2 separate regions of the Homo sapiens genome follow, and region 1 is reported to be linked to region 2. The links are microRNA targets in miRTarBase. Many come from high-throughput screens and were not tested one by one. Region 2 holds a microRNA gene; the other region holds the end of a gene's coding sequence.
The links. The annotated mature microRNA hsa-miR-424-5p reads CAGCAGCAAUUCAUGUUUUGAA and lies in region 2 at 1,329-1,350, shown strand. An mRNA with a match to its seed (bases 2 to 7 or 8) in the 3' UTR can be bound and repressed. Matches are read on the target gene's strand: a 7mer-m8 pairs with bases 2 to 8, a 7mer-A1 pairs with bases 2 to 7 and ends in A, and an 8mer does both.

Region 1 (4,000 bases), not on the chromosome of region 2:
CAGCCAGGGGGCCGAAGGAGTCAGGTGGCATGAAGAAGAGGGGAGGACAGATATTCAGATCCCACCTGGGGAGAGACCCCTGTCTACCCTCCTCCTCTCCCCTTAACTCCAGACACATATAAAGCCTCCAGACAGCCTCTTAGCTTGCCCCCTGGCCACTAGGCCGTGCAACATTAGAACTGTTCTGTTGTTGTAGGTAGGAAGTTGGAGAAGAGGCATGTTAGACTCTATTCAGGTGTCTTCATGGGGAGAGGAAGGTACAGTAAGTTCAGAGGTGTCCCCAGACAGTAGCCCTCAGAAACCACACTCCCCTGAGCTCTCCCCATACCTCCCTACTGGGGTCTGCAGGGCCCACGGGGTTGGGTGGGGCATCCAGGTGCTGATTTAGTACCATCCATTGCTGCAACACCAGATTACGACAATACTGCATGATTTAACACACAACCACACACACAAAGCACACGCGCACACGCACATACATGTACAAAGGGATATTTTGGTGGTGGTGGATTTTTTTTTGTCTTTTGTCTTCCTATTCACATTACAAAAGGAAAGGGCAAGGTTCTGCAGAACTGACGAAGGAACTAACAGATACTACAAAAATATTACAATTTGTGAAGATTAGCTCAACCCTCTCAGCTTTTATGAATGGAGCGGGGAGGGGCCCAGGCTGAGTGGGAAGGGCATGGGAGTGAGGGGGCCAGCTAGTTCTATGGAATAGTTTGATTTTTTTCTCTTCCTTCCCCACCAATGTTGAATGACATCTTGCTGTTAAAAATACTGTTTTCTGGGATTTACAGATCCCCTGAGGGCCAGCCAGTCCCCGCTTCTTCCCAGACCAGAGGAGGAAGCCATAGTGCATAATGATTTCTTACAGACGGCCCCTCCCCCAAATGATTTCACCCTTTTCACATTATAAACATGACAACTGTTCTAGTCACGTATTTCAAGTTTAACTTCTTTTCCTTTCCAAAACACTAAGTCGTTACTATAGTTGCAAAATAGCATCCTCCCTACTTTACCATCCCTAATCCACAGTCTAGTGACACCGTCCTCCCAATTCACATCCTCCCAACACACAATTTTAAGGCCTTCAGATTTGGTGGATGAGATTGAAGGGGAGGGCAGGAGGGCTGGGGCCGAGGGACGGGGGGGTCGTCGCAGCAGCACCCATCCCTCCGGCTTCCCTACATTCCTCGTGATCCTTCTCCCCAAAACCGCTTCCCTAAACCACTTTGTAAAACCTAAGATCAAAACGCAGCCACAACTTTCTCAGAGAGAGAAAGGAAAGAAAAAATAATAATAAAAAACTCTTACACATAAAGCATGAGATGAAACGGAGGGTCCGTCCCAAAGCAAACACGAATATTGCAAATGTGCTTTCCAAAATTCAGGAGGGTCGGGGGAGGTTGGGGAAAAGAGGGAGGAAGAGCAGCAGAATGGGAGGCGGGAAAGGAACAAAAGAACAACTGGACAAACATAAGAGGTAGCTTTTAGAAAAACAACACCCCCACCCCAACACAACAAAACAAAGGCTGGATCCCGCCCCCCTCCCCAAAGACCAGCCGTGAAAATAGACCAATTCTGGCAATGAGAATGCACGCACAGAGGTGAGACCACACAGTTGCAAGGATCCAAACACAGGCCCTCAAACCTCAATGGCCCAGCAAATTGTAAGAAAGGTGGGATTCTCTCCAGAGTGTTTTAGGCGGAACGGATGGTGGCCACAGGTGACTTCATGCACCAGCGGAGCCAAAAGTGACTCCCTAGTGCCCTCTGGGGACCATGAGACCCCAAAGCAACATCCCCTCCCCACCCACGCTCTTCGCCCTCCTCGGCCCTCACATTCAGATCCTGAGTATCAACTCCTCCTGCACAGTTCCTGCCAGCTGGGAGGCTGGTCTCCAGGGGCACGGGGAGGGTCTTGACCAGCTGAAGTCTATAAAAACAACTATTAATTTACACAAGAAACAGAAAAGAACACCCTCCCCATTCCTCCAAGCCCCAACCGAAAAAGAGATACAGAGGTTAAGAAAGCTCATGAGGTCACAAAAAACTGAGGTAATTCAAGTACAATGTGCTAACAGGGGACACAGAAAAGAAGCAAAACATAACACAAGGCCAAAGCGCTTTCAAATCCTCCTCCTCCTGCAGCTCCTCCCCCTCCTTCTGCTCCTCCTCCTCCTCCTCTCCACTGTGGACCGAGGGGCGCTGTGAGTCAGGAATTCTGTGCGACTCTCTCTGGACCTGGCTTTTCTTGCTGAGCTCACTACATCTGGGGTCCCCAGTGTGACTCAACAACTTTCTCCCTTGCCCAGCTTCCCTCATCCCACGGGCTGGGTGTCCTCTTTTCCAGGTGTGGGACCCCTCTAGAGAAAGACATCCACAACCTACCCTCGGAACCTCAGCCCATTCATGGATTCCTTCTCCTGGGACTGAAGTAGGGCTACGTAGGGACTGTGGTTTGTTTGGTAGGATATTAGGTATTTAGTTGTGATGCTTTTCCATTTTGGAAGCAGCGCAGCAGGAATCTTGCTCACGATGGTGCTGGACTAGGGTGGGGTATTGGATTTGTTTTGTGTTCTCAGAAGGCTGAGGGTAGGAGGGACCCTGAAGTCAGAGGCAGCTATCCCACTAGGGAACCGGAGAAGGATGGAGACACCGCCAGGTCCCTGAGGGGCTGGGACTCCCCTGGGACTTGGAGGACAGGAGTCAAGGGGAGGCTGGGAACAAAGAGCTGGAGGAGGGGCAGGGGTCCTGAGGCTCTCAGAGACCACCGGGGGACACCCAGATGTGGCAAAGCAGAGGAAAGCAGCAGGTGGGCTGAGTGGTGGGAAGAGAAACAGAGCCCTTCTCCTCCCCAGTCAGCCGCCAGCAAACTAGAGCTGCCATTTTGAGCAGCTAGTGACCCAGCCCAGACCCATCAGCAGGGGAGCGCCCTTCTGGCTCACCTCCTCCCTCCCTTCATCTCCTGGGGGTCTTGGTGGAGGAAGGCCGGCACAGACCGTGTGGCTCTGACCAGAGGACCTCTCACCTGCTTTCTAGCCTCCATTTCTGGACACATAAAAGAAGGTCTGGGTGAAGGAAGGAGAAAAATGTGCCACCATTTGAGTGAACAAAATACCCAACCCCATCCCAGAAAATCAGGCAAACCTCCAGCCGGGAGAGGAGGGTGGAGGCCCCCAGAGGAGGGGCAGTGGCTTGGCATCCAGGTCATCTGGAGCCCAGAGAGAATCCAAGGCCAAAAAGCTACCAGGTTTCCTTTTCCTTCTGTTTTTTTTTTTCTTTTCCTTTTTTATTTGTCATAGTCCTTCCTTCATCTCACTCCAACTCTTCTTTCCTGGCTCCCCGCTCGGCTCCACCGCCGCGGGCCTCCCTTCACACATAGCACAGGTAGAGGTACGTCTTCTCTATCCTCCAGTCGGGCGGGATCTCCTCGGGCTTGTGGCCCTTCATGTGCTTCTGCATGGAGGAGAGGCTGGGGCAGTACTCTGTGCAGATGGTGCACTGGTAGGGCGAGGCGCCGTTGTGCGTTCTCAGGTGCTTGATCATGGCCGAGTAGTCCCGGGAGCGCTGGTGGCAGAGCTTACACTCAAAGGGCTTCTCACCTGAGGGCGGAGGGACAGGGCAGGAGAAAGTGAGGACAGACAGAAGGCGGTGAGGGCACCATGTCACCCTCAGGCGTGCCAGGGAAGCTGGGTTCCTCCAGCTGGGCTTGCTCCAACAGAACTTTCTGGGACAATGAAGGCACCACCCAAGACGGCAGCCACCAGTCACACATGGCTATGAATGAGGCTGGTGCGACTGCAGCTCTACAGTTTTCTAATTTTATTTCATTGTAACTAATTTAAATAGCTACATGTAGCTAGTTGACTACTGGATTGCCCAGCTCCTTGTCTTACTATTCTTAACTCTCCCAAGGCCACAGTCTTTTCCCTTTCTAATTAAGAAAATGGGTGTCTAGAAAGAGAAAGGCCCCAAAGTCCTCAGGAATGGCTCT
Region 2 (4,151 bases):
TACTTGATTGTCGCAATTTAGGGAATGGGGTTATTGTTACTAATGACTTTTTTTTTTTACCATGACATAGTGTATTTGTTACCACTGGATCTCAGTCTGGATGTTATAAATTCGATACTTAATCTTATTAAATACTCTGCACATTTTATTAACTAATAAATAGGACACTTAACATTCATTGTACTGGTTTTGAAAAACCGACTTAATTTGTAAGTGTAACAAGATACTTACAGTTGGATAATTTAAATGTCTATTACTTGTGCTGAAATGTATTTAACTTTCAAAACCATTACAGTTAGTGCTGATTTTGTTGTTTTAACTTTTAGGTTTGTGATTGAGGATTTCAGAGTGGGTTTTTTTTTTAATGCTTAATTGAATATTGTATTCAAACAAAAAGAGGGCATGCATGTGACTTGTTGCTAATATGTGTCCATTTTAAAAAGGAAAAAGTGGTATCTAATGAGTTAATCATTAAGGAGTATGCGCAGTGCCGGCCATTTCAGGACATGAAAGTTTCTGTGGAGCTGCTTGAAACAGGAAGGAGCGACTTGACATCAAGTATTTAAACTTTTTGATTTATGTTTTGATAGATGACATTGATAGGTATAAATTATAAATAAGTTTGAGTAACCAGTTTAATATGTAAACTGGTATTTCATCTACAGAAAGTTCTCTGTCATTGTTTGGAGCTCTTTAAAATAACTCAGCTGGGGTGTTTAAGAATAAAAACACTAGCAGTGAGTTAGGACATCTAATGCTTTTAAAGATAGATGTATATGTCGCAACGATAGTGTAAGAATCAGCTGAAGCTACCGGTGAGGTTTTGGTTATTTTCTTTCAGTCATCTGAGTCCATTTCCAATAAAGGTTGTTTTTTTGTTTCGTTTTTTGTTTTTTTTTAATGGGGACAATGAATGAGACTTGTAATATGCAGCAGGAAGAAGTTTCACCAAGACTTTGAAACTGGCAAGAATGATCCAGATGTCCAATTGCCTCTACTTAACCTTATTCGTCTACCTTCAGAAGTAATTAGATTCTCTTCCACACTAATTCGTATCCCCCATCGCTCTGCTTTTCACCCACTACGTTGTTCCAAGATTCATCCTCAGGGGAAAAAATTGAGAGCCACACTTTCGGCTCCACCTGCAGCTCCTGGAAATCAAATGGTGAAGTTATAAGAAGTACCTTAACTTGGAGTGAAGTGGCCTAGTCATAAGTTTTGCCCTATTCCTTGCCAGGGGGTGGGGCGGGGCTTCCTTCAGTCATCCAGTCTTTATTCACCCGCAGGTACCCCCAGATCGATCCCCCTTCATTGACTCCGAGGGGATACAGCAGCAATTCATGTTTTGAAGTGTTCTAAATGGTTCAAAACGTGAGGCGCTGCTATACCCCCTCGTGGGGAAGGTAGAAGGTGGGGTCTGCCGGACGCGTGTTCCTGCCACCAGGTGCCCGCTCCCCGCGAGGCCGGCTCAGGAGCAGGTAGGTGGGCGGGGGCTCGCGTCTCTGTTTCCGGCGGGTCCTCGCCCTTGTCCACGCAGCAGGGCTGTAGTCCGGGGAGGGCAGTATTCCTGGCTAGGCTGGGGCGCATAGGCGGTGCGAGTCGAGGAGAGACGCGGTGCCCGCGCTCAGCCGTGCCCTAGCAGCGGGAACAGTTCTGCAGTGAGCGATCGGTGCTCTGGGGTATTGTTTCCGCTGCCAGGGTAAGTCTGGGACTGCCGTTCGGGCCTACCCAGCAGGTAAGTCTTAGGCCATCGCCTGCGGTGTCGGCCCCGGGAGCAGCGAGACCCAAGATTGCATCAAACGTTTGCCCCGTCTCTGCATATGTGACTGGACGTGAATGATGCTTCATTTTGGCACCCCCTTTCCCTGCTCAGGTAGAATGTAAACAATTGAAAAAAATCCCTTCCCAATCAGAATACCACCCACAGGACAACGAAGAAAACCTATCTTCAGTCCCCACCCACGAAATGCTGGGGGGTGGGGAGGACTGGAAAAGGAGTAAGGGGAGAGGAAGGGTGAGCAGCTGCAAGAAGTCTTTACACCTCTCTGCGGTTCCTGGTAAACGCGCTCATGTCCTGGGTATGGAAGGGACTTAAGAATTCAGGAAAGATCAAAATAACGGGCCTCTTCCCCACTCCCTCGCCCTCCCTTCCCCGCTGCTGGGGGGTTAGGGAGGCTCCGTGGAGCTCCAGCACTCTAGAAGGATCGGGTGAGGCGCGAGGCCTTGCGGGCGGGTGAACCCAAGGTGGGGTGGAAGGCTCCAACCCGCCCAATCTGAGCCCGAGGCCTGCTGAGAAGCATGGGGGCCTTGGGATAGTTCCAGAATGAGGATGTGCGTTTCTAGCTGCTTTGCGCCCTCCTCCCCCAAAAATCTGCTACCACAATTCCAACCCGGCGGCACGCCCCCAAGACTCCTTTGTCGCCCCAGGGGCGGGACCTGAGCTGTCGATTTCAGGAGCCCTTCGTGACTTCAAAAGTCCTGGGCACTGTTGCTCATGAGTGCTGCACAACTGTCGCCCTCTAAAGCCACCTCCATCCCTCACTGGGCTGGCCTCCTGAGCCTTCGGTGAGGAAACGGGGTTCCGAGTTGCCCGCCTGAGAGCTTAACAGTCTGACTAGAAAAGGGCTAATTCGCTTTCTGTGCAAATCTCTTGAGCTAATTATTTAATCTGAAACATGGACAGGTAAAGGACCATTGGCGGGCGTGGGGAGGGAGGTGTGGAATCTTTCCCACACTTTTTGTCACCTTAAAGAAAAAAAAAAGACACCCAAACTCCTCTGGTCTGAATGGGCTGCCTGGAACTGGGCTTCCCGGGGCCAGGAGTGGGCCCCTAGAAGTTTCCCAGTTTGGGGTGGGGCCGGGGTTCCGAAGTCTAGAGCTGGGAGTCGGGTTCAGCGGCCCGAGACGCTGGCTCTCCCAGACTCCCTTGCGCCGGGGCAGTGCGCGGGGGCGGCTCGGGTCCCTCCCGGGCCGGCGGGGACCCTCAGGCTCCCGGGGCGCCGCCCACCAGCCCGACCCGGCGGCCTAGAAATCCCCATTCTGCTCCCGCCTCGCCCCGGCCGGCCAGCGCAGGGCCCCTCAGGCCCGCAATCTCCAGGCTCAAACGGCGAACAGGTCCCCGCATCCGCCTGCCTTTGCACTTGGGGGTGGGAGAGCCACCTTGTGACGCCCCTTCTGCCTCTCACCAGCTTCCCCCTTTCTCCCCGTCCTGTACGGTTCCCCCTGGAGCCAGAAGGAAGCCCGGTGCCAGCCAGCCTTCCTGAAAGACCAAGCCCGCGCCATCCGGCTTCCTCCAGTGGACGCCTGCAGGACCCAGGTGAGACACGGAACCGGTTGGGGACGCGAGCCAGGGATCCTGACCGGTTGGGGGCGGCGAGCAAGGGATCCTGACTTGGGGGCGTTGCCTCCCGGAATCCAAGCGGCCTTTTGCCCGGGTCTCCCGAGATGCATCGAAATTGAGCTCGTCCACACAGCCCCCTGACTGCGTGATGCCCTTTTCTGACTTAAAACATTCCTTGTACCTTTATTTACACGATCCAAGTTGCAGTGTGCCTAGATTTTCCTCCAAGGACAAAAATGTGAATAAAGCAATATTTTAGCCAAACATTTCTGTGTCAATTAAGAAGATTGCAATTCGTTCCAGACTATAAATTCTCTTTAACAACTCCCTAAGGTATTCTTTTAAATTGTTTTTCAGCGTTGCTAAATGTGCATCATAATGTGTGGGAGACTTGTATAAAGTGAATCAATTTATACTCAGCTGATTAATTGACCCGATGTTACCACCTCCAAGGAGGCACCTTTCCACTATTTTCTCATTTTTTCCCCAACACATGTTATTTGTTAGTGAGGAAGCTGCGTGCACGTGGCATTGTATAAAGTTTATTAGACAGACGTGGCCCTTAAACTAGGAAGAGCTTAGTCTAACTCTAAATCTAAAATTCGACATTTCGGTAAGTTGTGAGACAAGATACCCAGGTTGTTTGATAAACCAGAATTGAACATAATTTTTTAAAAATTTAAATCACAGGAATGTTTTTCTTGAAGGCATCCAGCATCTCCAGTTAGCAGTACTGATTTTTTTTCCCCCCAACAAAGGAACACTACATCAACACTGTTGGCGGGGACCTGGACACAGAAGACTCCTGTTT

Region 1: the mRNA of ZBTB16 is a reported target of hsa-miR-424-5p. Seed matches in the 3' UTR shown: 7mer-m8 at 2,811-2,817, 7mer-m8 at 1,431-1,437 and 7mer-m8 at 1,163-1,169.

Annotation. Positions count from the first base shown.
Region 1 is chr11:114,249,934-114,253,933 of GRCh38, reverse strand. It overlaps ZBTB16 (zinc finger and BTB domain containing 16), which reads right to left. Exons shown (of 7, transcript NM_006006.6): 7 at 1-3,608. The coding sequence ends at 3,379. Among named protein-coding and RNA genes, the nearest start is that of NNMT, 44 kb to the left of the region's middle.
Region 2 is chrX:134,543,879-134,548,029 of GRCh38, reverse strand. It overlaps MIR424 (microRNA 424), which reads left to right and starts at 1,319; the gene lies at 1,319-1,416. It overlaps MIR503HG (MIR503 host gene), which reads left to right and starts at 1,400. Exons shown (of 3, transcript NR_024607.1): 1 at 1,400-1,478; 2 at 3,233-3,316; 3 at 4,031-4,151. It overlaps MIR503 (microRNA 503), which reads left to right and starts at 1,632; the gene lies at 1,632-1,702.